Linked DNA regions of Homo sapiens. The protein of the gene in region 2 interacts with the protein of the main gene of each other region in a pairwise test. Each region holds a gene or a part of one and is shown on either strand. Other genes may lie near its edges.

Region 1 (3,652 bases), on a different chromosome or scaffold from region 2:
ATTGCTGTTACTCGAGCAGTCTCTCTGGAACAATTCAACCTTTCCTATATTTTGGAATTCAGGTGACCAAATCAGAACCAAACAGAACAATCCCAAATCTGGAGAAACATGGTGATTAAGGGGTATTTTTAGTTGCACGAAAGAGATCAAGAGAGCTTTAAAAAAAAAAAAAAAGAGTGAGTTAATGGTAGGGAGAGGTTGGTCAAATAAAGGGCACATGTCCTTGCTTTACCTGAGGGACTGGCATTATGGAGACTTGCTCCCTTAGTTTTGGCCATCCTCTCTTGGGTAGGAAAAAGGCCTTATTGAGAGTTAAGTATTTAGGGAAATAAATTTGATGATCCGTTATTTTCTTCAACTTTTTTCTCCCTGACAGCAAGGAAGATTTAAGGAAGAAAACTTTTCGATTTCCTTTGAAAAATAGAACACAAAACTGGCTTGTAAATGTTTTTAGAATGATGAATAAGTCATTAATTAATTCAGTGACGTATGTTTTCTAGGATCCCTCTGGCTGTTGTGCTGAGAACAGAAGGGGTCAAGGGAGTGGGGGAGTAAAAATGGAAGCAGGGTGACGCATGCAGGAGTCCAGACAAAAGACGGGTGATTTTGCTCAGGTTGGTAGCAACAGAGGTAATGAGAAGTAGTTGGATTTTGGATATATTTTGAAGGAAGGACCTAAAAGATTTGCTGATGGCTTAGAAGTTAGGTATGAGTTAAGTCAAAAATGATACCACAGTTTTTGGCCTGAACAACTGGAAGGACAGAATTACCATTAACTGATATGGGGAAGACCGTGGAAAGAACAGTTTTCGGGCATTAGGAAAAATAATAACACATTTGTATGCTTTTGAGAATGGTTCAGTGGAGAGTAGAAATACTGACGAGGGAGAGAATTATTGGAGTCATAGCCTTGGGTAAGTGAGAGGGGGTAGTTTCTAGTACATACTTAGAGAGTTTGGCCAAGAGCATATAGCATAGCCCTGTTAATAGGAACACAGGTAGAGGATATGAGCACTGGTGCTGGTTAAGTGGGTGGATGTTCAAGTTCTCCTGATTGCCTGCTTTTTTCAGTAAAGTAGGAATCCAGGTCATCAGCTGACAGAGAAGATGGGGAATGGGGATGTTGGAGATTTGAGGAAAATATAAAAGTGAACAGACTAGAAAAATAAAGTAATATAAGGACCTTTTGGAGATTAATGATCATGAATACTTAAAGTCTCAAGTGTTTGGGAGTGCAGGTTGGAATCTTACAAAACTCTGCCATGAGACCTTTGTGTGACCCAGCAGACTACTTCTTGTGCTTGTCATCTGCTTCATATTCTGTCAGGTGAAAACAGTTGGTCTATCTGGAAGTATTTGCATCAAATTTAGAAAAAATACATGGAAAATAATCAACTTTGTCTCAGTCTATGAAAATCTTTAGATTTCTGCAGTCCATACAAATGATAAACAATCAAGAGAAGGAGCTATTGCTTAAGTCAAAAATGGAAATTAATGAATAGTCTTTCCATGCAGTTGTACACAGTGGATTTGGTTTGTATCCGCTTACAAATTTTAGAGGACAATGGCCGCAACACATCATGGTGTTTTGATGTTACTCTGATTTTGTTTCTTCCATTATTGAGTTTTTGCTTTATTTGTAAAAACTGGCACCAGTAGAAATGCTAATTTTTAAAATGCTTAGCCATTTATAAAACTATAACAAAATTTAAAATATTAATACATTTGTAACATTGGTGTCTGAATCAACTTAACCTCTAATAAAGAACTGTCTATATAACTTGCCTTGTTCAGAAATAACTATTTTAATTTAAAGGTGAATTTAGAATTTCAAAATACTTTAGAATTTCTCAGGAAACTAGTTACTTCCAAGTTTTCAGTTTTTTGCTGTGGATAAAGAATTATTTTAATTTCATCAAAGAATGTTTCCCATTTTTTAATCTGGTAATTTATTGGGTGCCCACTGTGTGCTAAATATCTTCTAGGTGAGCAAGACTAAGTCCTTTCTTCATAGAAACCGACTAATGTTAATGTTAATTAGGTCAATAAATGCTAGAAAGAGAGGGGGTGCTATTTTAGATTGGGTAAGCAGGGAAAGCCTCTCTGAAGAAATGACATTAGGAGTTTGCCTTGAAAAAAACTAAAGAACCATACACATATGCCCCTTTTGCCATTTACACTGGGGAGCCAAACTTTTTACCAGCATTTATTTCATGGTGTTATTATCCAGTTTTTCATGTACAGTAGATGTTGGCTCTTTATTACTTGATTTTTATCAACTTTTCTTCTTCAGACAGTTATAACCACTAGCCCTGTTTGGCACAGCAGCCTCCTACTTCCTTGTACCTCCATTCTCATTTTTGCCAGTTGTCCTTCTCTGTACTATCTCTTCCTCTTTACTCTCCTATGGTGGGCATGTTTTTAGTTTTTCTGACTTCATTTGTGTCTGATCATTCTCCCATTCAAAGGTAATTATCTCTTATGAGAAAATGTCTATATATGTACACGCATGCATACACATATATATGTATCACTGTCATTACACACATCATCAGCATCAGGAATGTTTTTATAGATTTGAAATCAGAGTCTATGGATTTAGATAAAATACAAAAGGAAGGAAAAATAGAAGTACTGCTGTTGTATGTACATTGAGGGAAGTATCTTTCTGATTAAAAAAAAAAGGCCGGGCGCGATGGCTCACGCTTGTAATCCCAGCACTTTGGGAGACTGAGGCAGGCGGATCACCTGTCAGGAGTTCAAGACCAGCCTGACCAACACGGAGAAACTCCATCTCTACTAAAAATACAAGATTAGCCAGGCATGGTGGCGCATGCCTGTAATCCCAGCTACTTGGGAGGCTGAGGCAGAAGAATCGCTTGAACCCAGGAGGCAGAGGTTGCAGTGAGCTGAGATCATGCCATTGCACTCCAGCCTGGGCAACAAGAGCAAAACTCAGTCTCAGAAAAAAACAAACAAACAAAATAAGACAATTGAGACACATGTCTTTAAAGCCATAGGCCCATATCGGTTGTCTGAGGGTGGTAATCTTTGCTTCTCATGGAACAGGGTGAGGTGCCAGAAATCTCTAGACTGGCAGATGGGAGGGAGGGAGAATGTACAAGGTGTCTAAAAAGTTGGAAACATAGGATAAACATTATGTTTTATTTTCAAATGACACACTCAATATGTTTTTCATTAACCACTAGACACTTTTTTAGATGATATACTTCTAAATTTAAAACAGTCCAGTTGTTAACCTGAACAATATATATTGTAAATACACTATTATTCCTGTTTCCAGACTTTTTGAACATTCTCTGGTGTATTTATTGTACTTTTTTCAGATTAACAACTTGACCTATTTCTTAGTGTGTATCTCTAGATATGTTTCTAAACATTTTGAACAGTTGATTGTCAAAACCCCTGACGAAAGAGAGTTTCATGATGAAGCTTGAGGAACTAGAATGGGCTTCCCAAGAATTAAATGCTGATCCAGCCTCCTTTTCTGTGAAGAGATTTATAGTGTGTTAGGGCAAAGAAAACTATAGATAAATGTATAGTTTCTCATGATACTCCTGTGAGAAAAACTGGTTACTATTTGATGACTTCACGGCTGCTTGGAGAGAGGACTCATCTGTAGTGGACCTCT
Region 2 (3,652 bases):
TATATAATTCTTTAGATTGTAGTAATGGGTCTAAATGATTGCTGAATATTTTTCCTTCTGAATTTGTGTCTTCAAAAAGTCAATTATTTGGCTGATCTTGAATAGTGAACTTAAAATACTTTGATGGAAAAAGGAATTATTTCATTCATGATACTGGATTATTCTGTTTCATAACTTTCCTTGATCTAGGTGATCTTGCTGTAAGAAACTCTGTATTTAGGCTGGACGTGGTGGCTCACACCTATAATCCTAGCATTTTGGGAGGCTGAGGCGGGAGGATCACTTGAGCTCAGGAGTTCAAGACCAGCCTAGACAACATAGTGAGACCTCATCTCTATGATAAAACAGATTTTTTTAAAGTAAAAAAAAAACCTCTCTATTTGAAAATTTGATCATAAAACACATTAAGCAGTGTTTATAATGTGAAATAATTTACTTGATTTACTATAAATATACTGTATGTGTAACTGGCAAGTTTGGTATACAGAGTTGGCTTTATACATAAATATACTGTATGTGCAACTAGCAAGTTTGGTATACAGAATTGGTATACACATATACTGTATGTGTAACTGGCAAGTTTTGTATACAGAGTGTGTGTACGTATATACGCACATATACATACATATTTAAATTTGGAATCAGCAAAATTTTTTCTTTTCTAGGAACTAAGCGTCTTGTAGAAGGAACTATTAATCCAGGAGAAACCTGTTTAATCATTGAAGATGTTGTCACCAGTGGATCTAGTGTTTTGGAAACTGTTGAGGTTCTTCAGAAGGAGGGCTTGAAGGTCACTGATGCCATAGTGCTGTTGGACAGAGAGCAGGGAGGCAAGGACAAGTTGCAGGCGCACGGGATCCGCCTCCACTCAGTGTGTACATTGTCCAAAATGCTGGAGATTCTCGAGCAGCAGAAAAAAGTTGATGCTGAGACAGTTGGGAGAGTGAAGAGGTTTATTCAGGAGAATGTCTTTGTGGCAGCGAATCATAATGGTTCTCCCCTTTCTATAAAGGAAGCACCCAAAGAACTCAGCTTCGGTGCACGTGCAGAGCTGCCCAGGATCCACCCAGTTGCATCGAAGCTTCTCAGGCTTATGCAAAAGAAGGAGACCAATCTGTGTCTATCTGCTGATGTTTCACTGGCCAGAGAGCTGTTGCAGCTAGCAGATGCTTTAGGACCTAGTATCTGCATGCTGAAGACTCATGTAGATATTTTGAATGATTTTACTCTGGATGTGATGAAGGAGTTGATAACTCTGGCAAAATGCCATGAGTTCTTGATATTTGAAGACCGGAAGTTTGCAGATATAGGAAACACAGTGAAAAAGCAGTATGAAGGTAAGTGTATTATTCAGGAATCTGCAAGAATCAGAAATCCAGCTTAAACTGAAGAAGAAAAAGGAAATGCTCATGTCATTGAAAGTCCATTCATAGAGCAGGCTGTCAAGCGTGGTTGGATCCAGGAGCTCAAGTGATATCTTCATGACTTGCTTTCTCTCCATCTCTCAGCTCTGCTTTCTTCTCTGTTGACTTCTTTCTCAGGTAGGCATACTCTGCATGCTCACCCCAAACCAATCACTCTAGCTTGGGATGTAGAATACCTTCATTAACTAGCCTGGGCAATTTGCTCTGCAACTGTGAGGTTGTTAACTCTGTATGACCTTCTTGAAATAAGAACCAGTCAGGGATAATTTCCTTAAAGAAAATGGATGTGCTAGTACCAGAAGAAGGGTATGTGCCTGGGCAAGCAAATTTGACAGATGTCCTTGGCAGAATATGATGTTTTGAATGAAAATTCCACATAAAGGAAACAATGAAAAAGAAATATAAAATGGTAAGATTTATTTGTAGCAGAAAAAGTTCTATTGATAAACATTATTTAAAGATTTTTCTTTTATCAAATAGGGACTCAAAGTAGTGCATGTGTTGGTTGAGAAAAATGCTTAGTTCTACTGCCTATTCTATGCAAATTTCTGTCTATGTTTTTACAACTGTGTGATCAGACTATATTTAATGCATTTTTCACTTAACCTGGTAACAGATATTTGGTTGTGTCATATAACATTTTTTGTAGGCATCTTTGAGGTAACTTTTCTTTAATGTATGCATGTTCATAAGCTATTTCTTTAAAATAGATTTGTCTTTAAGTGACTTCTTCATGTGCTTAAGATGTCCTGCCCTCATCACATTGCCTAGCTTACTTTAGCTGATTGACTGACATAAGAGTTTTATACAAACTTTCTTCAGCTCTGCATAGAGTTTTTTCGAAAATCAGGCTTGTTACTGTCCGCTTTTAAAAGGAATATAGTTGCCTATTGAAATTAGATAGCTAAGGAGATCTAAGGAACACGTAGAAATATTGAGCGATAGTAAAGCTGCTGAGAGACCCCTGCAGAGTGAAAACTTGTCATCTTCAAGAAGAATTTTATTTTTATTATTATTTTTTTTGAGATGGGGTCTTGCTCTGTCGCCCAGGCTGGAGTGCAGTGGTGCAATCTTGACTCACTGCAACCTCCACCTCCTGGGCTCAAGTGATCCTCCCACCTCAGCCTCCCAAGTAGCTGGGACCACAGGCATGCGCCACCACACCTAGCTAATTTTTTTGTATTTTTGGTAGAGATGGAGTTTTGCCATGTTGCCCAGGCTGGTCTCGAACTCCTAAACTCAAGCAATCTGCCCACCTCAGCCTCCCAAAGTACTGGGATTACAAGCATGAGCCACCATGCCCAGCTTCAAGAGGAATTTTTAAATGTTATCCTTGACATCAATAAATGTTTATCTTCACTGGAGTCCCTTTCTAATAGCATGAGCTTTATTTGTGGTCATGAGCTTCAGCCTTCAAGGAAAAAGAGTCCTGTTAGTGTTCCAGATAAGCCAAGTGCAGACCTTGAAAGTTTTTTCTCATTGTGATCTCTCACCCAGCTACTTACCTGAATAACAGATACAGTTTTCACAGATGGAACCATGGGTCTGCTGATAATCACTAAAGTTCCTGAAGAGTTTTGATTCTCTCATTAACATGTTACTGGGAGATTATTTCATATTGTAGTTGGTTGGTTGGACAAGACGTTAGAGGTTTTGTTTGAAAATCAGCAAATATCTTTTTTCCCCCTTCTTCTTAGGAGGTATCTTTAAAATAGCTTCCTGGGCAGATCTAGTAAATGCTCACGTGGTGCCAGGCTCAGGAGTTGTGAAAGGCCTGCAAGAAGTGGGCCTGCCTTTGCATCGGGGGTGCCTCCTTATTGCGGAAATGAGCTCCACCGGCTCCCTGGCCACTGGGGACTACACTAGAGCAGCGGTAAGTGGTGGGGGGACTGGGTGAGAGGGGGCAGGGGCTGCTATGCTGCATGCTGCAAGAAGATATCTCCTAATCTGGCGTTTCTGGAACCTCTGCCAAAAAAAAAATCCAGCTCTTGTTAGTGTGACAGTATATTAATACTAGTTGGATAGAATTCCTTGATAGTTAATAGCATTTTATATCATGTAGTGGACACTTCAGGAATTTGAATTATACTCCAAGAGAAACTTTGAGACCCAGATAGTTAGTCAAACAAACACTTACTAAATCTACCAGGACTTTAAGATAATGTCTTTTTCATCTTACCATGAATTGAGAGAAGATGAGAAGAGCTTCCCAGACATGCAGTTTCTCA

Evidence for each region. The genes of interacting proteins can lie anywhere in the genome.
Region 1: the proteins of UMPS (region 2) and PLA2G12A interact in a two-hybrid assay, tested with the Homo sapiens proteins (one large-scale study listed by BioGRID and IntAct).

Annotation. Positions count from the first base shown.
Region 1 is NC_000004.12:109,723,454-109,727,105, reverse strand, and holds part of PLA2G12A (group XIIA secretory phospholipase A2 precursor), read left to right. Parts: intron 1-3,652. UniProt on the Homo sapiens protein: PA2 catalyzes the calcium-dependent hydrolysis of the 2-acyl groups in 3-sn-phosphoglycerides. Does not exhibit detectable activity toward sn-2-arachidonoyl- or linoleoyl-phosphatidylcholine or -phosphatidylethanolamine.
Region 2 is NC_000003.12:124,736,903-124,740,554, forward strand, and holds part of UMPS (uridine 5'-monophosphate synthase), read left to right. Parts: intron 1-665; coding exon 666-1,337; exon of another isoform or gene 1,338-1,541; intron 1,542-3,121; coding exon 3,122-3,297; intron 3,298-3,652. UniProt on the Homo sapiens protein: Bifunctional enzyme catalyzing the last two steps of de novo pyrimidine biosynthesis, orotate phosphoribosyltransferase (OPRT), which converts orotate to orotidine-5'-monophosphate (OMP), and orotidine-5'-monophosphate decarboxylase (ODC), the terminal enzymatic reaction that decarboxylates OMP to uridine monophosphate (UMP).